7 linked regions of the Homo sapiens genome follow. The protein of the gene in region 7 purifies or fractionates together with the protein of the main gene of each other region. This does not show direct contact. Each region holds a gene or a part of one and is shown on either strand. Other genes may lie near its edges. The genes, in order: RPRD1B, POC1A, MKI67, NUB1, DENND10, DHX15 and RNF168.

Region 1 (3,500 bases), on a different chromosome or scaffold from region 7:
ATCTGTGCCATCCAACAGGTAGCCGCTTGGTATATGTGGCTATGGAGCACTTAAAATGTGTGACTAAGGAACTAAAGTTTTAAGTAGATAGAATTGAAAATTTAGTTTCCAGTTTTTACCAGCTGCAATTCAGGTGTTCCAATAGCCACACGTGGCTAGTGGCTAACTTACTGGACAGTGCAGAGTTAAAAAAAGATGCTCTTCCAAGCATCAATACCTAGCTTCCGAATATCCAGGCTTATTTCATGAACTGAAAATGCCCCCACACTGAAAGAAAAGGATTCTGTGCCCTAATGTTCAGATTGATTAGCCCTGTAGGTTCTACCTAGGGTGAAGTCATTTTCCGTAGCTGAGATGCTCACAGACTGTCTCTGAGTTGCCTTCAAAATATATGAGATTTATAAAAATTAACTTTTTTTCTTGCTTAAATACTTCTATTCCTGATGTGTTGTCTTTCCATTTTCTAGGAATAATTTTTAATTTATCCCATTTGAGCTCTGTTCTAAGTAGAACGTCTCCCCTTCTTTATGGACTAGTTTTGGTGTAAAGTGCTCCTAAATGAATGTTTTTAATGGTGTTTTGTATCTTGGCCTGAATGTAGGTAATGGGCTTTTATTGCAGAATTACTTTAAGACTTTCTGTAGATGTCAAAACCAGCCAAACAAGTGAAAAGTTTTGATTAACCAGTTGTTTAAATTTTACTCAACAACTAGTTTGACCAGTTTGGAATGGACATGGGTAGTGAGTGAAAGGACCTATTTCTGTCGTATAGGAAGGACATCTGAACAAGTGAGTTGTCCCCCAGGATTGGGATGGAGGGGTGTGCATGTTGTGTGTATTGTGACTGTGTGTGCTCAAGAGCTCTAGGGTTTTGTCATATCACCTTGACACACATGGTGCTTATGTTGACTGTTGAGGATGTTGAATATGGAGGGATACAGTTTATCCTAAATAAATCCCCATTGTTAAGTTCTGGGGTGATGAAAATTAATTGGCATTGTAAACAGTGAAAACCTTGGGTCTCAAGCCCCTTAGATACCTTGTTTGTCTACTGAGAAGTATATATCAGGTCTTGAATGTCCACACTGACATTTTACAATATGGATTCTAGGTTTTTTTTTTTTCAACATAAAGTGTATGGAATTTTAAAGCTTCACTTAATGAAATTTGCTTTGTTGAAGTTCTGTTTTGCTTTCGAATCTGCTAACTTGCATGGGATTATAGGTGTAGTAGTTTCACTTACATCAACTTTGCAGAGCAAGGTTTGCTTTAACAAAAAAGCACGTTTTGCCATAATCATACCTTTGTAGCAACAGTAGATATTGTAACTACTGACACTTTTGTTCTGCTTTTGAATAATAATTAGAAAGTTGAAGAAAGCTCCAGGTTCCTAGTATTCTTATCAGTTGGCCATCTAAACTAGGTTATTACCAGAAGGTTAAGACAATTCAGGGTATCCATATTTAATTTTATGAGCATTTAAGACATCAGTTTCATCAGTTTAAACTGTAATGTGCTATTAAAATCATGTTTTTAACTTGGGTTACTCTCCTGTAGCTACATTTTTTTTTTTTTTTTTGAGACGGAGTCTCTTACTCTGTCACCCAGGTGGGAGTGCAGTTGGCGCGATCTCGGCTCACTGCAACCTCCGCCTCCCAGGTTCAAGTGATTCGCCTGCCTCAGCCTCCCAAGTAGCTGGGTTTACAGGCGCCTGGCACCACGCCCGGCTGATTTTTTTTGTTTTGTTTTTTTTTTTTTTTTTTTTTTTTGAGACAGAGTCTTGCTCTGTCACCCAGACTGGAGTGCAGTGGTGTGATCTCGGCTCACTGCAAGCTCCGCCTCCTGGGCTCACCCCATTGTCCTGCCTCAGCCTCCTGAGTAGCTGGGACTACAGGCGCCCGCCACCACGCCTGGCTAATTTTTTGTATTTTTAGTAGAGACAAGGTTTCACCATGTTAGCCAGGATGGCCTTGATCTCGTGACCTCAGGTGATCCACCTGCCTTGGCCTCCCGGAGTGCTGGGATTACAGGCGTGAGCCACTGTGCCCAGCCTCCTGTAGCTACATTTTAAAATGTCAGATCTTATGCCTGCTATGTCAGACATATCAATGCTTTGTACATTTCAAAAGAAACAACTGGTTTCAGAGAGAAATAGAGTTACTCAGGTGTGTTAAGGTTGATAAAGAGCTTGTGTTTTTCAGGTACTTTAGCATTGGAGAAAACTTTGTGTTTTGAAACATCTAATTATGTTCTTATTTATTTCTTTTAAAAGAAAATTGGAACCAAAAATTGTAGGGATGTAACTTTATAGTTGAGAAATTATGTGCATAGAAGCCAGGGAATTCAGTAATGTTCCCCAAAGCAACTGTAACTCAGACATATTGCACGAGGTTTTTATGGTTTAATATATGATACCATATAGAGTAATAGGGAATAACCACATTTCATATAAATAAGAGAGAATTATGGTTTTTGTGAAAGCCCTAATTTTGCATATCTAGATTTCACACGTGTGTAAATTTTCAATAAGAGTGTAGTGTTAATGTATACTTGTATTTGAGCTAATATCTATTGGTGCACCTAGAGATTCTTCTATATTATTGATTATGGTTATTGGAGTATCAGAGAAATTCTCAGTTTAGGAGCAAAATTACAAGAAACCTTTTTTTTTTTTTTGAGACGGAGTTTTGCTCTTGTTGCCCAGGCTGGAGTGCAACAGCATGATCTAGGCTCACCACAACCTCTACCTCCCGGATTCAAGCGATTCTCCCACCTCAGCCTCCTGAGTAACTGGGATTACAGGCATGTGCCACCACGCCAGGCAAATTTTGTATTTTTAGTAGAGACGGGGTTTCTCCACGTTGGTCAGGCTGGTCTCAAACTCCCGACCTCAGGTGATCCGTCCATCTCGGCCTCCAAAAGTGCTGGGATGACAGGCATGAGCCACCACGCTCGGCGAAACCATTTTAAAATTGAAACCTAACTCAGTCTTTTTTTTTTTTTTTTGAGACAGAGTCTTGCTCTATTGCCCAAGCTGGAGTACAGTAGTGCAATCTCGGCTCACTGCAACCTCCACCTCCTGGGTTCAAGCGATTCTCCTGCCTCAGCCTCCTGAGTAGCTGGGACTACAGGTGCCCACCATCACACCCGGCTAATTTTTGTATCTTTAGTAGAGGTAGGGTTTCACCATGTTGGCCAGGCTGGTCTCAAACTCCTGACCTCAAATGATCCACCCACCTCGTCCTCCCAGAGTGCTGAGATTACAGGCATGAGCCACTGCGTCCGGCCAACTCAGTCTTTCATTCTGAAATATTTGATAATTAAAAGTGAGTTAGAAGTTGCTCATTTTTGCAGTAGAATAAATAAAAGCCCTAGTTTCAACATTAACACTGACTGCTTATCCTTTAGGAATTCTCTTTGGATTATCTTAATTTTTACTATCAATTAATTACCCTGGTTTAAACAACACAGCAATGAAGATGGCCCATTCTTTTTCTTTT
Region 2 (3,500 bases), about 140 Mb from region 7:
GTTAAGTAACTTGTTCTAAGTTACCCAGCAAATAACAGAATTGGGATCTGAACCCAAAGTGCAGGCTCTTCCCGGACATGAGACAGCCTCTGGCAGGTGACATTGACTGCAGCTGGGCTTCCATGTGCACAGTTCCTCTCCAACGTCCCCATGGAGGCCTCTGAATCCTAGGTCTAATGCTTTTTGCGTCACTTCCCCAACCCAGCTGCCCTGGAATGATTGCCCAGCACAGAGCTGAACTCAGAGCAGGCCCTCCACAAACACTCAACACCTCAAAGAGCAGGGCCCACCGAGGTAAAATTCCTGTGTAATGAATCCTCCCCAATGTCTGCACTGCAGCAAAGGGCCAGCAGCCCCACCCCTCACAGCTCTGTAGCCACTCACCTGCATGCCAGCACTCTGGAGCTGTGGCATTTCCCTGAGAGCTGGGCAAATAAGCAAGAAAGCAGAGATAAGAAAATGACACACAAGAGTGGGAAGAGACAGTCGTACCAGAGCCATGAGTAATGACAGTGGCAGAATAACCCAAGCAGCATTTAAATGCAAAAGTCACATCAGCATTTTGTCTGTTCAACATCAAAGAGTCCTAGGGGTTTTGCCTGGTGGTTCTCAGTTAAGTATAACATGAATAAAATAACACAAAGAGGCCAGACACGGTGACTTACACCTGTAACCCAACCACTTTGGGAGGCCAAGGCAGGTGGATCACTTGAGGACAGGAGTTCAAGACAAGCCTGGCCAATATGGTGAAACCCTATCTCTACTAAAAATACAAAAATCAGCCAGGCATGGTGGTAGGCACCTGTAATCCCAGCTACTCGGGAGGCTGAGGCAGGAGAATCACTTGAACCCAGGAGGTGGAGGTTGCAATGAGCTGAGATCACACCACTGCACTCCAGCCTGGGCAACAGAGCAAGACTCCGTCTCAAAAGAAAAAGTAATGCTCACTAAAATAACAACAAAGATTAATCCACACATATACTCGTATAGGCCTACACCAATTCAACAACATTTCACTTTTGCCAAATATAAACATCTTAATACCAAAACAAAAAAAGGTGACTCTCAAGAGATGGCTCTAACTTTGGGAAATATCACTTGGGGTCTGCAGGTGTCTCCTCTCATGCCACCCTGGGGTGGGACTCTGGCCTCTCACAGTTGGTTAATGTGTTGCCCACCTCAGTTCCTGTTTCCTCTGCTGCCTGCTTTTCATACACCACCAGGAGCTCATCACTTCACACACAGTAGGAATTGCCTAAATGTCTGTGGCTGATACTCAGCTACCCAGACACATGAGGAACCAAACCATAACATTTCATTAAAAACAAAAGAAACAGCTTGTAGATCTTCCTTGTGACAAGAAATCAACCCATCTGGAGTTGACTTCTTGAGAGGTCTCTGAATTGACCGTGATCTCCCTCTTCCATCAAGATACAAGTATGGATAAGGAGCTGCTGCCTAGGATATATAAAGCTGGGGAAAGTGTTAATTCCTTCCTAACAAGAAAAAGACTGACAATCTAAAAGAATCATAACTTCTCTTAAATCAGAGAGCTGAAGTCACAGAGCAACCAGTAGCCTGAAATCTAAGGAAAGACAGACACTTCCAAGGAAAATAGAAAGTGAGCATCAGCTGTGGGTCACCTATGGCAAAGCATGAGGAGAAGAGACGCCAAATACCATACGAGTGGGTAAGTTACAGTTTTAACAAACTGCTGGAGACCAAGCGCAGACTAGGGTAAGAGTGCAGAACCCCCAGGTGCCACAGACACAAGTAGAGCTTGCACCCATGCACAGGTTCTCCTCCACAGACCTCCACTGGGCTTTCATGACAAAAAAAAATGGGGGCAGAACAGTAGATGGAAGAAAACCGTTCTTGGAGGTGCAGGCCTAGGAGAGGAGAGTGAGTAAGGAAAGGTATGAAGCCCTGCCAGGACCTCTCCCCTGTAGAAGAGCATCCTGAAACTACTAGGGAAAAGCAAATATAAAAACACCTCTTCCCTTGAGGGAGAGGCAGGAAACTATCCTGAGCTGAGATTATCAAGGTCTCCTTTGAATGAGGAAGGAGCAGGACCGCTAAGAATGTCTCACTTTTGAGACCCAGGGAGACAGAGTCTGCTTAAGACTGAAGCTGGGTCAAGACAACAGGGCCCACCCCAACCCTCAGCAAAAAAAAAAAAAAAAAAAATATCAAGCACCAAGCAATAAGCAACAGCAGCCTATCTAGGGAGGAGGGCCAAGAACATGGAAAAAAGCATGCCCCTCTGAGGGGCATGCCCACAGGGCTGGCTGAAAGGTGAGAGTGAGGAAAATGACTGAGAAAATCCTCCATCAACCAGACCTCATCCTAGGTACGTTAGGTAACACTAAACTAAGCTCAACTCCTGATAAGACTATTTACCTCAGTCTTTACTGTCCTAAGCATGATGCCTGGCATTTAATAAAACATTATGAGACACAAAAAGGCAGGGAGAAAAAAAAACCCCACTGTCAAGAGACAAAGCAGTCAGTAGAAGCAGACTCAGATGACCTAGATGTTGAAACTATGAGATACAAAATTTAAAATAACTATGATTAATATGGTAAAGGCTCTACTGAATAACACACATGATCAAATGGAGAATTTCAGCAGAAAGGCAGAAATTATAAGAAAGAGTCAAATGGAAACAACAGAAATAAGAAACCCAGTAACAGAGAAGTATGGCTATAATGGGCTCAATGGGAAAATAAATTAGTGATCTTAAAGATAGATCAATTCCTCAAACTGAAACACAGAGGGATAAAACAGAACAGAGCTTCCATAAGCTACAAGACAATACTGTCTCTAACACATGGACAATTGGAATCCTAGAAGGAGAAGAGAGAGAAATTAGATATTTCTTATAATACAAATTTGCTGGTAAAAAATTGTCAGCTTTGGTTTTTCTGGAGGGGAAAAAAAGGTCTTATTTCCCCATCATTGCTAAAATATTTTTGCTAAGTACAGAACTTTGGGTTGGCAGTTTTTCTTTCAAACTTTAAAGATGTTACTCTTTCAGTTTGTATAGTTTCACGAGAATTCTTCATAATTCTTACATTTGATCCACATATATATGTCTTTTTTTCTCTGGCTACCTTCAAGATTTCTTTCTTAATCCTTGGTTTTCAGAAGTTTGAATATAACTCATCTAGGATTTTGTTTTGTTTTGTTTTTCTCCAGCTTGTTTGCTGTTTCTCTGAGCTTCTTGGAACTATGGTTTGATGCCTTTCATTATTTTTTGAAAATTCTTGGCCATTATCTTTTCAATAGCACCAAAACAACATGAAGTATATATTATTAATAGTTTCCTAGGGCTGCTGTAACAAATTGTCACATTTGATGGCGTAAAACAATCTAAATTAATTCTCTCACAGTTCTGGAAGTCTGAATCAAGGCAGGGCCACATTTCCTCTGGAGGCACTAAGGGAGAATGCTGCCTTCCCTCTTTCAGCTTCTGGTGGCTCCATAATTCCTTTGCTTAT
Region 3 (3,500 bases), on a different chromosome or scaffold from region 7:
CTGAAATAAAAACATACACAATAAAAACATTCTATTAGTGTCTCATGTCAATCGAGTATTACAGCCTCATAAAATATGGTAAAAAACTAAATATTTAGCTTCGTATTCACTGAACGACATGAGGCTACTTATGTGTCTATAAATCTGTCTTATAAGAGCCATGCACAATTAAGAATAATGTTATTTGGTGCTATAGTGGGGTCATCATTAAGCAAAGTTAGATGCTGAAATGATCATAGAAGGTAAAAATACTGCTTCAGAAGGTTCCTCCAAAGGTTGCCATGCCCTGTGTCATTGACGTAAATATAGGCATTTTTTCCTTCAAACATTAGAAACAAACAGCTGTTTCTTGCCTTAAATCGCCAATAAAATAACATGGATTATCCTTATGTGGTTAGGGTCCATATTACACAGGAAATATTTACCTACCGCAAACATCTTCAGGGTAGCAAGCTGTTCCCTCTGTGACAGGAATACAGTGACCAGTGCCAAATGAGAGATTAGACAGATTCTCATCTCCCATCTCACACTTACCCCGGGCCTGCTCCCACCTAAAAGGTTAGCAGGAATAATTGCACAGTATACAAACTGTTATCTTTCTGTTTTGTAATTGGCAGTAATTTTGAATATGAGTAATTTATATGTAAATATGGTGAGACACCATTGTATTTTTTTGCTATGTCACCCTGGTTACTTACAATAAAGAAGCCAAAAGTGTACACAGGTCATTTACACACATTAACGGAGTCTTTCTTTCTATATAAGTCAATGAATGCCAATGTTAGTTCAACTGCTGATTGAAATCTCCCTTTCAATTAGAACAGAGAAGACGGAAATGGTATTTTGTGCCAGGAACATTTGTTTTAGAGAAGTAATATCATACTGCTTGTAAAAAAATAATACTGTATGTTCCTATCCCAAAACATCACAGTGTTAGGAAACAAGGAAACCAACCAAAACTCTCTGAGGTGGGGAGCAGAGGTTCTTCTCCTGAATCAGTTCCTTGAAACTGTTTTCCAAGCAAATTCTCTGAATTTGAAATAGCGATGTGACATGTGCTTGTCAACTGCGGTTGCTCCTTCACTGGGGTCTTGAACATTTCAGCTATTCCTGTTAAATGAAAATATTTGAAAAGTGATTGACATATTGCTAACATGCAGACAACCATCCCAGCCCTCACATGTAACGTGCAAATGGTGGGAAATAACAGTAGATTCCTCCCTTGAAATCCTGGTACATAGGCCTCATAAAAAGAGTGATTCCATTAATAATGTACTCATTTTGTAAAAAAGAGAGCACAGAGAAGATATGTTATGCTCTTCGCTTTGCTTTTCTTGGAAAGGAAACAAATGAAGTTAGCTGACCTCTGGGTCCTCCTAACAAGACCCCACACGTGAGCTCTGGAGCACGGAGGCTGGTGACGGGCTCCTGAGACCCATAGGCCTCCCTGCTAGGATCTAGAGGCCAAATGCCTTCATGCTTCTCAAAGTCTTGGGTGCTCAGTTCTAGATTTTAAGTACAAATAACACGTACCCACATTTTAGAAAATGACAAAGAGCTGCCCATTTTTAGTACTGTCAAGTAATAATATATATTTTTGAAAATCTAATATCATTATCATTCTGTTTGGAATGATAGGAGGCCTCAGCCTCCCAAAGTGTTGGGATTACAGGCGTGAGCCACTGCGCCGGCCATCCCCACTTTAAATTACACAAGTCAGGCCACAATTTACTGAGAGTGGGAATTGAATGGAAATATTTCTTCAACAATCGTTTATGGGAATCTTCTCATAGGGCTTTCTTTCAAGAAAGTTAAGCTACCTAGAAAGTCAATCCTGAAGAAGCAAAATGTTGCTCAACAACAACTGGCCCACACCTGGGATAAACTATTATTGTACCTGCAGATTAACAAGTTAACTCTCTTCACTGTAAAGCACCTTCCAGCTTTCTATGTATACGCTGCTCTCCAGGGTAAAGACATGCATTTGACATTTCCACACCTATTTCATGCAGGACATGTGATCCCAAAAATTAGCAGAGACTTGTCTTTGCAAGCCAAAACAGCTTTATCTTCCCTGAACACTAAGACCCCAGAAGGGTGATTGAGTCGTTTATTTTATAATCTCTTTCACAGCAGATAAACAAAGTTAGCAAAACAAACATTAACACAGTAAAAAACAGTAGAGTCAAAAGATTTATAAGATCTAAGACTACGTTTTTACCTGAAAGATCTTCCTTAAAGTCCATTTTTTGGTTGGAAATGAAGTTGTTGAGCACTCTGTAGGGTCGAGCAGGCACATGTACTTTTTCAGTATGAGCTTTCCCTATTATTATGGTACAAGGAGAGTTTGCGTGGCCTGTACTAAATTGACTGTGAACTTCGCCCACAGGCTTCTGTAGAAAACAGGAAGGAGGTAAACAGGACATTAAAGCATAAATCCACACTGAATGCAAGCTTCGATGACACCGGTATGTGTAAAGCAGCCATTCAGTGAGGCCCCTACCTTTGGAGTAGCAGGTCTTCTTTGCCTTTTGTTCATTGACCTTTGAGGACCATGTTTTATGACTTTAGTTTGTGTTTGTTTTGCACCAAGTTTTACTACATCTGCCCATGATTTTGCAACTGTCAAAGGGAAAAGACGAAACTTTTCAAAAATTAGCATTCATGAAAAAATTCACCTTAATATATGTATTCTAATGTCAGACTAACCAATCAGATTTGCTTCCGAAGCACCACTTCTTCTTTTGGAACATATCATCTGTAAAATATCATGTTGACTTCGGCTGATAGACACTCTCTTTGAAGGCAGGTTGCCACTCTTTCTCCCTCCTCTCTTAGGAACCTCTGTCTGAGATTTGCTGCTGGAAGCAGGGGCTGTTTTGCAGGACCTACGGCGTTGATCACTGGCAACTGGAGTTTTCCTAGGACTAGGAGCTGGAGGGCTTATAACCAAGCTTTGTGCCTTCACTTCCACATGGATTTCTGAACCTGACTCTTGTTTTCCTGATGGTTGAGGCTGTTCCTGACAAGACAAAATTGTTTACAAGAAGCCTTAACAAGGATCTAACATCTCTGGAATGACTGATAAAAACCTATTCAGTTAAGAATTTCAGCTGTTTAAATCTTGAAGCATCAAATGCTTAAGCCACTGTCTTTGAAGACTATGGTAGAGGTGAGACTGTCTCAGTCATTTAAGGAAAAGGAAAGAGAAGCAAGCCAAGTCTGAAGTGAGGTCATTTCAGGTAAAAAGGTGGAAGGAACATCCTGATCAGTGAAAGACAAGCAGGGTCTGATCTCAGTCCCAGTAAATACCAGCTGTGAGCACCCAGCCCCCGGCAGTCCACATGGAGGGAGGACTGCTTGCCCCTGGGAGCCAGTGTAAAATGGAAAGGGAGCCAGACATCACTTTCCACTCCTGCTGGGAAGAGAAGGAAAGAAAGACCGCCCAGGCCCTATTACAAAGGTTATGAGCTATAGGGCCATGACTTCCCAGAGGTGTG
Region 4 (3,069 bases), on a different chromosome or scaffold from region 7:
TAACCACCACATCTGAGGATTGCTGAGCAGAATCTAAAACACACAGGAACACCCTTTACCCATCACTAAGAACTCTTCACACATTCAGACAGGCGCTGCACCCTGCCATGTGCTAGGCAGACCCCGCCGTCCTCTGCTGCTATGAGGCAGAGAAAGGGGCTCCCACTCAGGCTGGTGTTCACAGAAGGCTTCCAGCCAGAGACCAGGACAGCTGGGGTTTGAAGGAGGAGCAAGACTAGTCAGGGAAAAGATCCCTTCTGTTAGAGCAGGAAGGGATGGAGAGCAGGTGGAAGCAGCATCCAAGAAAACAGGTTTTGTCAGAGCTACAGACAGAAAGGTCTCAAGCAGCTCAGGGCTGCCTGATTGATCTTTGAAAGCGTCATGCCCTCTAGACTTAAAATGTCAGGCAGGTAGTAGGGTTATTTTGACCCTTGATTTCTTCATCACACAATACTTAATCTTCAAAGACCCTGTGGAGACTTTCCTTTCCAACACTCAGTACTTCCATTTTGACTGGAAGTATTTTTGTGCCACTCGTATAATTCACATCTATTTTGAGACCCATCAGTCCCTTCGAATATTCAGAATTTCCCACCTCTTAATATTTCTCCAACACACAAAAAAACGAACTAGATGATATTCAAATAAAAATTTAAAATTTAACGTATATGTTAAATATACATGTACATAGTTACAAAAGTACTGACTTGTGGAGCCTTCCGGGGAACAGGGCAGGGATAAGAGGCAAAGGCAGGGTGGACTCCCCGTGCCTGCTGCACCCACACCCGCCTCAGCAGGGCAAACGAGGACACCTGCCCTGCACCCCACCCCCTCCAACCCCATCTCTGTCCCCCCAGCCCCGCCCCCAGCACGTGCACAACCTAAGCCAGCTCCTACCACTCTGCTTCCTGCCCGCCGCGCTGCCCCAGCATCTGTCTGGACTGCTGCCTCCACACAGCCAGCCCCCTGCCTCCTGTGCACCCCCTCGGGACCCCTCACCACGTGTGCTCTGAGTTTGTCTCTCACTGACCTGCGGGGCCGAGAGGGCAGAGGGTGGTTCCATGCCAAGCTGCTGAGACGCAGCGCAGCACCTGCCCTACTGAGGATTCGATATGCTTCTCCAACACAGGGAAGGAAGTGGCCCAGGTAAAGTCACTGCTGTCTGGATCCCAACCTGCTGTCACTCCTGAGGGGTTCTTTGAAAAGCTCTCCCTTTGCCAACATGTACGATGGACTAAATAAATAAAACTAGATACTTACATTTAAAATTTTAATGCCAAACAATTATACTACAAGTTGAATTCCCATTCTCTTTTTTCTGCCGTGGAAACTGCCTGTTTCACTAAACTCTGCTGCACACAGAAACCCTACACAAAGTCCTGGCCTGTGGACTGTGCTGGTGTGGACAGGCACCACGTTTTGGAGCCAGGCCTGGGCCAAGCACTGAGCATGGGGCCTCACGTGGCCTCACGCAGCCTGTGTCTGGGCTGGAGCCCAGGAGAAACCTGCCCTTCAGATCCGGATGACGGGGCAGCCCATAGGAGTGAGCCCGGGAGGATGCTGGAGAGCCATGGAGGGAGCTCTGGGCAGGACCCACTGCTCAGGGACAAGGCCAGAGGCCCCGAGGGAGCTGCTACCTTCAGGGCCTCATCCAAGTTCCCGCTGGCTGCGTGGAGTACCTGCTGGGCCGCGTGCGTGGAGTAGCCCATCCCTTTCAGAAACCTGATGTTCTCGAGGCGGCGTCTTTTCTTCTCTTTTTCCTCCTTCCTTATTTGGGCCAGTTCCTTTAGGAAAACAGCAAAGTCCCATCCCAAGTTAGGGACTGAGATTTCACAGCCTCTCAGTCTGCGCTCTGCAGGATTCTCCGCATTTCCAGGCAAAGCCAAAAAACCAAAGCAAAGCACAGGGGGCCCTCTTTCTACCTCTCCTCACCCAGCCAAATGGCAGAGGTGCCACAGAGGCAGAGGGGTGGTGGAAGTGCTGCTTCTGAGGCAGGCAGTGGAAGTGAGATGCCCGTGGGGCAGGAAGGAGGTGCCTCGCCAGCCCCGCCATCCACCATCCGGCATCAGGATGGGCTGCTCGCCAACCCAGCACTCCCACTGCAGAGGTCGCGGGTGTGAGGTGCATGGATTCTCTTCTAGGAACCAGGTAGGAACCGGGTAGGAGAGCTTCTGCACGCGGTGGGAAGGCCTTCCAGCCTTCGATGAATCGCCCAGGGATTCAAGTTAAAATGTGATGTGGAATCAGGGGCTCCTGGGCAATGCCAAAGCTGGTGACCCGCCCCCCACAGCCTGGGGAGCAAGGACTCCAGGGCCTTCTGAGGCCTGTCATTCCATTCGGAACCCACAGAGTGCCCAGAGACAAAGGTCATCTAACCTCTTGGTTCTCAACCCTGTTTCTCAGAGTTGCCTGCTATTGCTGCAGGAGCGCAGGACGGCTGCAGAGGGTTCTAGTCTCTTCACCTCTCCCACCCAGGGCCAATCAGGAGAGTTCCCAATTTATTTTGTAAACTAGTATCCCCATAAAAATGTCATTTAAAAAGGGGATTTTGCTGCTTAAAAACAACAACAACAAAGCAAGTTTGAAAACCAGGAATTTAATCCAACCTCATTATTTTCCCAACAAGGAGACAGAAAGCTTTCAACAAAGTTAAGTGACTTGCTACATTCTCCCAGGGAGACCAGCCCCACCATCAGCAGCAGCGAGGACGGGGGAGAAAACAGACTCCTTCCTTCCAGAGACCTGATCCTGCCTCCTGCCCAGCCCAGGCAACAGGCGCCTCCCTGCATTTTCCCCACAGCAGGAAAGCGGCCTCATCTCTTAGGAAAACAAAAGCATCATCATTGTGGAACCAGACTCCACAGGCCCCACAGTAGGAGCAGGCAGAACAGAGTGGCTGCTGGAAACATCTCCAGGGATGAAGACATCTGTAGACTCATGGCCTGTCTCTATCACAGGAGAACCTCCTGGTGTGGCCCTGGAGTGCCCACAGCGCCAGCTCCCTTTGCTTCCCCTTCAGCTGCACCAGGCCTGTCTCATGCCCCCATTACGTGCTCTACCTCTCAGTGG
Region 5 (3,500 bases), on a different chromosome or scaffold from region 7:
AGAGCCGTTTTCTTCACTCTGGCATATCCCCTTTGTGAGAACTGCAATATAACTCTCCATCATTTTAACTGGGCTCCCATGTTTCAGGTACATTCTGTAAGAAAGGACAACAAAGCAACTGTGATTTCATTTGGCACAAATCATGTACAGATGTGCACCCAGGCTGGTATGGGTGCCTTCTCAAGAATCCGAGGCCACCTTGCTACTGCCCTTCTGAATGCTTCACTCTTCTGTTTTTTTTGAGACAGAGTCTCACTCTGTCGCCCGGGCTGGAGTGCAACGGTGCAATCTTGGCTCACTGAAACCTCCACCTCCTGGGTTCAAGTGTTTTTCCTGCCTCAGCCTCCCGAGTACCTGGGATTACAGGTGTGCACCACCACACCCTGCTAAGTTTTGTAATTTTAGTAGAGTCGGGGTCTCACCATGTTGGCCAGGCTGGTCTCAAACTCCTGACCTCAGGTAATCCGCCCACCTCAGCCTCCTAAAGTGCTGGGATTACAGCTGCACTTACTGCACTTACTGCTGAGTTACTGCGCTTGGCCTGAATGCTTGAATCTTTTCATGTAGAAAGTAGTATTACTTTCAAGTAGCATCATTTCTCTCTAAATTAAAAATATATTTCAAAGAAAAAGCAGCCGGGCGCAGTGGCTCATGCCTGTAATCCTAGCACTTTGGGAGGGCAAAGCAGGCGAATCACCTGAGGTCAGAAGTTGGAGACCAGCCTGGCCAACATGGCAAAACCTCACCTCTACTAAAAATACCAAAAAAAAAAAAAAATTAGCCAGGTGTGGCAGTACATGCCTGTAATCCCAGCTACTCAGGAGGCTGAGGCAGGATTGTCGCTTGAACCAGGGAGGCAGAGGTTACAATGAGCCGAGATTGCACCACTGCATTCCAGCCTGGTCAACAGAGCAAGATTCTGTCTCAAAAAAAAAAAAAAAAAAAAAGAAAGAAAGAAAGAAAAGAAAAAGCTTGAGAGACCTTCAACAATTCTTTGGACTCAGCCATCTCCTTACATCTGGGAGCCCCTTGTTGTACTAAGGCAGGAGAATGAAGTACGAACTTCCTGAGGTCCCAGGATTCTCAAGAATGTTGTGCACTTATCCTGTGTCTTACATTCACAACTGGGGTTCTCAGTCATACAACTCTGTTTTATCACTGAGATTTCCTTTGACGAGAAAGGAGTTTTACGCACTGTTCACAGAGAAACCAGTAATTAGTTGTAGAACCCATACTTATTATTAAATGAGTTCCCAGAGGTAGCTATATTTAGATAATTAAGAAATCAAAACTCCTTTAGGTTTCTGGTGATAAATGCACATTAGACATTCATCGTCAAGTTAAAGCTTCTAGAAAATGCTGACAGGAAACTGGCTGCATTTATAGCTCACATGTGGAATCCGTCTCTTCCCCTTGAAATCTCTTCCTGTGAGCAACTAAAATTAAATTTTGCTTGAGAAACATGACTGGGTCTATTTGGGCCTTTCAGGAGCTGGTGGGATAGAAAATCGGGAAGAAAATAAAACATATTTAAGACAGATCACTTGAGGGCCGGGCACAGTGACTCATGCCTGTAATCACGGCACTTTGGGAGGCCAAGGTGGGCGGATCACTTGAGGCCAGGAGTTAGAGACCAGCCCGGGCAACACGGTGAAACGCTGTCTCTACTAAAAATATAAAAATTAGCTGGGCCTGGTGGCTCACACCTGTAATCCCAGCTACTTGGGAGGCTGAGGCAGAAGAATTGCTTGAACCCAGGAAGAGGAGGTTGCAGTGAGTCAAGATCACACCACTGCACTCCAGCCTGGGCAACAGAGCGAGATTCCGTCTCAAAAAAAAAAAAAAAAAGATCACTTGAAAATTATATTTATCATAGACTAAATGAAAAAAGCAAGTGTTTTAACTGCTTGCCAACTTTTGTCAATCATCAGTGTTTTTTTAAAAATTACCAATTCCAGCACTTTGGGAGGCCGAGGCGGGCGGATCACGAGGTCAGGAGATCGAGACCATCCCGGCTAAAACGGTGAAACCCCGTCTCTACTAAAAATACAAAAAAAATTAGCCGGGCGTAGTGGCGGGCGCCTGTCGTCCCAGCTACTTGGGAGGCTGAGGCAGGAGAATGGCGTGAACCCGGGAGGCGGAGCTTGCAGTGAGCCGAGATCCCGCCACTGCACTCCAGCCTGGGCGACAGAGCGAGACTCCGTCTCAAAAAAAAAAAAAAAAAAAAAAATTACCAATTCAATTCACAACTTGACGGAAAAAAAGTAGAGAACAATGAATGTGGTGAGCTTTCACACATGTAAAATACATTCAAACCCAGGAACTCACACACAGGCTCACACAGGGAGAAAAACTTCTCTGATAGGATATAAAGAAGGAGGTCACGGGAGTTGTGTGGGGTGGGGATCAGGAGGTAGAACTGGAGTCTGGGAACAGGAGGAGGCGGCAGCTCAGTTTTCACTGCATATTCTCCTGTGTTTCTAAATGTGCTTTATTACTACCAACAACAAAAAACCAAAATGCCATTAGCTTTCTAAAATAGAGGCCAAGCACTGTGGCTCATGCTTATAATCTCTACACTCTAGGAGGCCGAGGCAAGAGGCTCACTTTAGGCCAGGAGTTCCAGACAAGCCTGGTGAACATGGTGAAACCCCGTCTCTACTAAAAATATAAAAATTAGCCAGGTGTGGTGGTGTGCACCTGTAATTCCCACTACTTGGGAGGCTGCAGCACAAGAATCACTTAAACCCATGAGTTGGAGGTGGTAGTGAGCCGAGGTGGCGCCACTGCATTCCAGCCTGGGTGACAGAGTGAAACTCTATCTCAAAAAAAAAAAAATTATAAAATAGAAACAATACACAGTAATAGAGAAGAGAAACATAAGGTTGGTAGGATAAGATGACTTCCTACATGACAACCCTGGGCCAGGAGAGATAAAACAGAGGGGGAAATCCCCCCAAAACCACTCCACAGGAAAAGCCCACAGTGCGACCCCAAGCACCTTGTTCAGATAGACATCCATAGGCTGCCACACATCGAGGCCTGTACAGCTGACTGCAAGTGTGCATGAAACCCCGGTTCTCTAGCAGGGCCACTAGCAGCAAGCGACTAGAGGCTGAAGAGGACCACAGCAGTGAACCTGCAGCCACATAGGGAATGAGGTTCCCTCCTGCGGGCTTCTGCTGCCACTGTGAGCAGCAAGCTGTGTGTGGAAGGCACGCCTGCCTGCTCCTCACCAGAAATGGAGGGAGGCAACTCCATGTTAAACTGTCATGAAGAAAAGAAGTCTTTGCCTATGAGTGTGTGCATGTACACACAGACCTGTGTGTGTGTGTGTGTGTGTGTGTGCAAATACTTGGATGTGCATACATGCAAGAGTGAGCATAGTGCTGCATGAAGGGGCAGGAAGCAGAGGAGGCGGCTGGCAGTAGCTCCGAGTCCTCACTTCTCTTGCACTGTGACGGGAGAAGAAATCCAGGATACTACAATGCCACGCACTG
Region 6 (3,500 bases), on a different chromosome or scaffold from region 7:
ATCAATGAACCAAAAAGGGAAACCAGGCTTAGTTAGGGATGGCTCAAGTGAAGGCTGCTAATATGGACTCCAGTTATCACAAGACAGGCGCCACGTAAGAATGAAGGCAATGAGATCAAGGGTCAAGATTGTATAACTTTGCAGGGGTCAGCTATCTCCTGTCCATTCCACACTGGTTACTGATGTCACTATGAAAAACAACTATCTTCCTTTTGGCACCTGGACAAAACACAGGATGCCTTTAGATGCTTAAGTCACAGCTCATCCAGTTAGATAAAAACCCATTATTTTATTTACGGATTTAAAAGTGGTATTAAAAAATCTGAAGCCATCATTTATGAATTCACCATTTTGGCTCTTTTTATGATTAGTCTAACCTAATCTTTCATGGACCAACTGGATATTTTTAGCTCATGCCATCTGCTGGAGCATTAAGTTCAGCAAATTGATAGTGTACAACAAAAAGAAGTGAATTCTCTTTATTTCACCTAAACTTAATTCTAAATTTCATAAACTATTGGCAAACAAATCCATCTTAACTCATTTATATGCTTTATGCTTCTTGTCCTTGGTCATATTTTTAAAAATAAACTACCACATTCCTGGGAGGGACAAACAGCATTAGCTATAAGGTTATTTTATGTAAGACCAGGAAAGAAAAAACACTGCCAATTAAATTATGACTCAGTGCCTTAAAGACAGTAAAGCATAGTGCAAGAATCAGCAACACTATAGCCCTTAGCTGCTTTGAAATTTCTTTGATCTGAGGACGTTTGGTAATTTTTCCTGTCTTCCGATATATCACAGACACGAGAGAGGCAATACTCTTGTACATGATCTCAGTAGCAGAACATAACATACAGCTTCCTCTATTTGTGAGTTACCTCTCTTAGCTTCAATAGAGCGGTCTGTTGATTTGCAAGGCAAAAAAAAAAAAAAAGGATTGGTTACTCTTCCAACATTTGCTCAAATACTAGCATATTTACACCCTATTGCTCCATTTCCCAGCCTCTTGATACTCAGTGCTCATTTCAACATGGAATCATAGTGTAATATTTAATATTTCTGAAGGCATTTAAATTAGCAAATACTCTCAGTATATACAGACCCAACAATTCACATTATTTGAGGTGAAAATATGTACAGCTAGATCGAGTTCAAGCATTCACAGGCAATAATAACCAAACTGCCACCAACTACAAGACCTCAGTAGATTGTGAGACACATTGTAACTTCAGACAATAAAAACTTGAGAAAAAAGTCACAGAAATGATAAAATATGACTTTAAGTTGAAAACTTCTTAAAACTAGTTTTAAAAGTCACCTTCTTTATTTTGATCTTTTTTCTCCTCACATTCCTCAAGCTTTAATCAATCACAATATGGAGCAGAGCTAACCAACAGACATTCCTTTTTATTTTTCTAAGGGAAGAAATGTTACAGATGGCAGACTATAAATATTATAAATTAGATTAATGGAAATATTTTATTGTGCTTTATTAACTATGCATATTGCAAGTACTTAGTTAAATGGCCAAAACTTCTATCATCCAGACAATTCCCAATGGTTCCTCAATACTGATCATCACCCAGTGATCCCATTCCATGAGGTGCTGCACTTAATTACTTCTTGCATCACCAGTTAATATGGGATACTGCTGTTTGTACAATGAATAATTTCAAGAAAAATGAAATTTCAAAATTTCAAAGGTCTCAAGGATATAGTCAAATTTACTTCTTTTCCAGTGAAGAAAACGAAAAAAACCGTAGTCAACTTTTCCAGACTCTCAAAACCAGTTACTAAGACTAGGTATCACTGTACTGATTCCCAGTCCTAAGTCTCTCCTACATTAACACACTCTTCACAAAGTCCCAGATAAAGGAACCCATTGTACGTACAAATTTCATAGCAAAAAGCTATTCGAAAGATATGCCCAGGTCCTAACCTCTGGTACCTATCAACGTGACATTACTCAGAAATAGGGTCTTTGCAGAAGTAATTAAGTTATAAATTTCAGACAAGATCGCCCTGAATTTAAGAGTGGGCCCTAAATCCAATGACCAGTATCCTTACAAAATGTAAAGAGAGGGAGATTTGAACACAAAAGGAAAGCCACGTGAAGATGAAGGCAGAGACTGTGGTTACAAAGCTACAAGCCAAGGAATGCTAAGGACTGTTAGCCACCACCAAAAGCTAGGAGAGAATCATGAAAGACTATTGCCACTTAGAGCCTCCAGTTGGAACTAACCTGCCAACATACTGTTTTTGAACTTCTGACCTTCAGAATTGTGAGAGAATGAATTTGTCAATTTTAAGCCACTAAAAAAAAAAAAAAAAAAAAAGAAACAGTACTTGACGATTTGCTATACTGTTAAATGTATGAAACCCTTTGCTTAACAACAAAAAACTAACTTGACACAGAACTCAGGAAAGGCAGAATCAGGCACTGGAGATAAAAACTACAGTCCATTTTCCTTTATGTAAGAGTCAAGTTTTACTAACTTTCTTAGTAGTAATGAAATATTTATCCAGGCTAAGGAATGAGTCACAATAGTAAAATTTTAAGTTTGAAGTTTCAATGATGAATTAATAAAAGTGCCACAGGATAGCCAAACTCCACACTTTACTGGGTGCCTTACTATCTACAGTGTTTTCCAACTGTTTTAGGGCAGAGATGCTCTTAAAAATTTATTAGCATCACCTTGGAACTAGTAAGAACTACAAAACTTGAGTCTCATCTCAGATCTACTTAATCAGAAATTTTGAAGGTGAGGCATAGCAATCTGCTCTAACAAGTTTTCAAGTGATTCTGATGATTGCTAAAGTTTAAGAAACACTAGTCTAAATTAATCAAATTAAACAAGAAGCAGATTACCTAAAGATGTCTAAAGTAGCAAAAACATCCTTGGAGTAAGTAACAGTTCAGCTTTTCAACTGTGACTGCTTAATAAAATATACCAAAAACCCCATGTACTGAACAGTATCAACCTAGCTTAAGTATTTTTTTGCAACAGGCACATGTAGATGGCGTAGTATAACTACAAGCCAACTGCCAACTATGATCTCAGCAAGATGACGACACCTAACACATCACTAATTCTGATTTGAACAAACCATGGTAAAACATTACATCCTGCAAATATATTACTTATTTATATTTTTGTATTTATATATATGTATATATATTTTATGAAACATTCCAAAAAATTACAAACTAAGCCTAAGAAAGGCAAAAAATCATTTTTATAAAATGAAAACCAGAAATCCCTACCTCAAAGCTTATGATCCCTCCCCAGTAAAATTCCAGCTTGGTTAAATGTTTAAAACAAAAACAAAATAGTAAAATACATGGATTAAATTATTTAAACCAACACTGGGCAGGGTATGATGCAAAACCTGGACATCATAAAAGTGGTTAATTCAATACGTGTACAAAATTCAAGTCTCTATGTAGCATGAAGTGTCATAAAGCAAAGAAATGTATGACAAACTGAGCAAAA
Region 7 (3,500 bases):
ATCACCTGAGGTCAGGAGTTCAAGACCAGCCTGGCCAACATGGTAAAACCCCCGTCTCTACTAAAATTACAAAAAATTAGCTGGGCGTGGTGGGACATGCCTGTAATCCCAGCTACTCAGGAGGCTGAGGCAGGAGAATTGCTTGAACCCGGGAGGTGGAGGCTGCAGTTACCTGAGATTGCGCCATTGTACTCCAGCCTGGGCAACAAGAGCGAAACTCCGTCAAAGAAGAAAAAGAAATAGCAAATGGACTGGATGCAGTGGCTCACACCTGTTATCCCAGTGCTTCAGGAGGCTAGGGCAGGAGAATCGCTTCAGCCAAGGGGTTGGAGGCTGCAGTGAGCTATGATCCCGCCACTGAACTCCAGCCTGGGCAAGAGTGAGATCTTGTTTCCAAAAACAAAAGAAAAAGGCAAATGAAGACAATTTTAACTTGTGTCTGCAGTTGAATAACTCACTGATCTTAATTTAGATTCAGTTTATGTAGAAATAAGTAAACTTTAAAAATCTGTCATTCCACGGTTTAACAAAAGTTCAGCTCTCTGCTTGCTGTAGTTGGGCATCTTCTGTAAATCGCACGTGCCTTTCCTTTGCCTGTTGTGGTTTTTAATTGATCTGTGGAAGTTCTAGTTATATTCTGGACACTAATTCTCTGGTGATTTATGTATTTGCAAATAACTTCTAGTTTGTTTTTAACTTTGTGATGTCTTTCATCACATGGAAGTTTTAATTGTTTTGGAATTTATCTCATATGTTCTTCTTAGTCGTTTATAGTTTTGTTTTTTTCCATTTTTTAATCCACCTTGAATTCGAGTATTGTATGAGGTAGGCATCTTAACTCCCCCTGCCCTTGATTGCCACTTAATAGCCACACTACTTGGTAGTAATACAGCCACATTGATATACGTACTATTTCACTAATCATATGCTTATTTTCCAGAGCAATTTGGGGCTATTTATTTATTTTATTTATTTATTTATTTATTTATTTGAGATGGAGTCTCTCTCTGTCACCCAGGCTGGAGTGCAATGGTGCGATCTTGGCTCACTGCAACCTCTGCCTCTCGGGTTCAAGCGATTCTCCTGTCTCAGCCTCTTGAGTAGCTGGGATTACAGGCGTGCACCACCACACGTGGCTAATTTTTGTATTTTTAGTAGACATAGGGTTATTTGCCTTGTTGGCCAGGCTGGTTTTGAACTCCTGACCTCAAGTGATCCGCCTGCCTCCACCTCCCAAAGTGCCGGGATTACAGGCATGAGCCATGGCACCTTGCCTGGGCTTTTTATTTTTTAACTATCTCTTTATCAGTAGCTGTGTCAGTACCACACATGCTTAGTTTAATTCTGCTTAATGATATGTTTTGCTTTCTAGTATAATACATCTGTCTTATTATTGTTTTCCTAAATTAGCTACTTAAAAAAAATTTTTTTGAACAAAGATGGGGTCTTGCTATGTTGCCCAGGCTGGTCTTGATAGCCTGAGCTCAAGTGGTCCTCCTGCCTCAGCCTTCCAAAGTGCTGGGATTACAGGCATGAGCCACTGTGCCCAGCCTCTTAGCTACTATTTTATTGTATCTAATGTGTAAAGTGATTTACTTTTTTTCCAGTTTTATTGTAAAAGATACATAACATAAAATCCGCCATGTTAACCATTTTTAAATGGACAGTTGCGTGACATGAAGTACATTCATGTTTTTGTGCAGCCGTCACCACCATTCATCTCTGAACTTTCTCATCTTCCACGCTTGAAACTGCCCATTAAACAATAATTAATTCCCCATTCACCCCTCCCCTGGCTGCTGGCGACCTCCATTCTTTCTGCCTCTACGGGTTTAATTGCTCTAGGTGTCTCGTACGAGTGGAACCCCACACAGTGTCTGTCCTTTGGTGACTGGCTGTTTCACGCAGCGTAGTGTCTTGAAGGTCCATCGTGTTCTAGCACGTGTCCATTCCATTTCCTTTTTTGGCCGCATACTCCATTATGTGTGTGTATATATCTTAATGGATGACTATTATAAAAAAAAAACCAAGTGTTGGCTGTCCTCTGAAGCGGTATCTCCGTACTCAGGATTTGCACTTCCCTAATGACTAGTAATGTTGAACATGTGTTTTTGTTTGTTTGTGAGACGGAGCCTCCCTCTGTCGCCCAGGCTGGAGTGCAGTGGCGTGATCTCGGCTCACTGCAAGCTCCGCCTCCCGGGTTCAAGCAATTCTTCTGTGTCAGCCTCTCGAGTAGTTGGAATTACAGGTGCCTGCCACCACTCCCGGCTTTTTGTATTTTTTGGTAGAGACGGGTTTCACCGTGTTGGTCAGGCTGGTCTCAAACTCTTGACCTCAAGTGATCCACCTGCCTCGGCCTCCCAAAATGCTGTGATTACAGGCATGAGCCACTGTGCCCGGCCTACTGTCAGTTGTTTTATTTGGGTTTTTTGTTTGTTTCTTTGTTTGTTTGTTTTGAGACGGAATCTCCCTCTGTCGTCCAGGCTGGAGTGTAGTGGTGCAATGTCGGCTCACTGCAGCCTCCGCCTCCCGGGTTCAAGCTATTCTACTGCCTCAGCCTCCCGAGTAGCTGAGACTACAGGTGCGTGCCACCACGCCTGGCTAATTTTTGTATTCTTAGTATAGACGGGGTTTCACCATATTGGCCAGGCTGGTCTCGAACTCCTGACCTCATGATCCGCCTGCCTCAGCCTCCCAAAGTGCTGGGATTACAGGCGTGAGCCACCGCTCCCAGCTTACTTTAATTTTTTAAATGAAAATAGTTTGACTCTGCAGTTTCCCTGAAAAAAAGTCTCAGATACCTCCAGGGTTTCGTAGATTCTACTTTAAGACTTGCTGATCTAGGTCTCAGTTTAAGCCAGCTGATTATCCTTCTACTTTTTAAGGAGCCTTATATATGTCTCTCCTGTGTATACCATTGTATTGTCTTGAATAGATCCTCCTTAGTGACTAAAATAAATGAGAATTCAGCATACTGCATCCCTAATTGTTTTGGAGTTACATCACTGTTTTTTAGTCTCTCTGTTGCAGATTTTTCAAACTGCTGGCCTGCAGGCCATAGGAATCCTGTGTGCATGTTTTTTGTGACCCATCCAATGCCACTATTTAAGTTGGAAGATTTCATATTAACATCTTGATTGCTGGATTTTCTTTTTTTTTTTCTTTTTACTTGGATAAATTTATGGGGTGCAAGGGTAATTTTGTTACATGTATAGATTGCACAGTGGCGAAGTCAGGGCTCTTTAGGGTATCTGCTACCCAAATAATGTACATTGTACCCATGAAGTCATCTCTCACCATCCACCCCTGCCGCCTCTGGATTTTCTTGAGAAAGCAAAAAATATGGCACGGACAGGCCTGAGTTTCCTGGTAGTCGTAGTCAGCTGGAGTTGAGTAGCAGCTGCCCCTTGAAACAGACAGATGCGTTCTCTTTTTTGGATGTTCCCTTTTTACACTTTATAAAACAGTGTCTTGTTTTATAGAATAAAATTCTCATCAGA

Evidence for each region.
Region 1: the proteins of RNF168 (region 7) and RPRD1B purify together in Homo sapiens (affinity purification with mass spectrometry; one large-scale study listed by BioGRID and IntAct). This does not show direct contact.
Region 2: the proteins of RNF168 (region 7) and POC1A fractionate together in Homo sapiens (co-fractionation; one large-scale study listed by BioGRID). This does not show direct contact.
Region 3: the proteins of RNF168 (region 7) and MKI67 purify together in Homo sapiens (affinity purification with mass spectrometry, with the first as the bait; one study listed by BioGRID). This does not show direct contact.
Region 4: the proteins of RNF168 (region 7) and NUB1 purify together in Homo sapiens (affinity purification with mass spectrometry; one large-scale study listed by BioGRID and IntAct). This does not show direct contact.
Region 5: the proteins of RNF168 (region 7) and DENND10 purify together in Homo sapiens (affinity purification with mass spectrometry; one large-scale study listed by BioGRID and IntAct). This does not show direct contact.
Region 6: the proteins of RNF168 (region 7) and DHX15 purify together in Homo sapiens (affinity purification with mass spectrometry, with the first as the bait; one study listed by BioGRID). This does not show direct contact.

What each region holds. Positions count from the first base shown.
Region 1 is NC_000020.11:38,036,746-38,040,245, forward strand, and holds part of RPRD1B (regulation of nuclear pre-mRNA domain-containing protein 1B), read left to right. Parts: intron 1-713; exon of another isoform or gene 714-1,362; intron 1,363-3,500. UniProt on the Homo sapiens protein: Interacts with phosphorylated C-terminal heptapeptide repeat domain (CTD) of the largest RNA polymerase II subunit POLR2A, and participates in dephosphorylation of the CTD by RPAP2. Transcriptional regulator which enhances expression of CCND1.
Region 2 is NC_000003.12:52,098,924-52,102,423, forward strand, and holds part of POC1A (POC1 centriolar protein homolog A), read right to left. Parts: intron 1-3,500.
Region 3 is NC_000010.11:128,109,424-128,112,923, forward strand, and holds part of MKI67 (proliferation marker protein Ki-67), read right to left. Parts: intron 3,023-3,500; coding exon 2,710-3,022; intron 2,623-2,709; coding exon 2,504-2,622; intron 2,394-2,503; coding exon 2,222-2,393; intron 1,111-2,221; coding exon 955-1,110; exon of another isoform or gene 524-954; coding exon of another isoform or gene 430-523; intron 1-429. UniProt on the Homo sapiens protein: Protein that associates with the surface of mitotic chromosomes and acts both as a chromosome repellent during early mitosis and chromosome attractant during late mitosis.
Region 4 is NC_000007.14:151,372,812-151,375,880, reverse strand, and holds part of NUB1 (NEDD8 ultimate buster 1), read right to left. Parts: exon of another isoform or gene 1,785-3,069; coding exon 1,638-1,784; exon of another isoform or gene 34-1,637; coding exon 1-33. UniProt on the Homo sapiens protein: Specific down-regulator of the NEDD8 conjugation system. Recruits NEDD8, UBD, and their conjugates to the proteasome for degradation. Isoform 1 promotes the degradation of NEDD8 more efficiently than isoform 2.
Region 5 is NC_000010.11:119,114,113-119,117,612, reverse strand, and holds part of DENND10 (DENN domain-containing protein 10), read right to left. Parts: intron 95-3,500; coding exon 1-94. UniProt on the Homo sapiens protein: Guanine nucleotide exchange factor (GEF) regulating homeostasis of late endocytic pathway, including endosomal positioning, maturation and secretion, possibly through activating Rab proteins such as RAB27A and RAB27B.
Region 6 is NC_000004.12:24,557,055-24,560,554, forward strand, and holds part of DHX15 (ATP-dependent RNA helicase DHX15), read right to left. Parts: intron 1-3,500.
Region 7 is NC_000003.12:196,490,269-196,493,768, reverse strand, and holds part of RNF168 (E3 ubiquitin-protein ligase RNF168), read left to right. Parts: intron 1-3,500. UniProt on the Homo sapiens protein: E3 ubiquitin-protein ligase required for accumulation of repair proteins to sites of DNA damage. Acts with UBE2N/UBC13 to amplify the RNF8-dependent histone ubiquitination.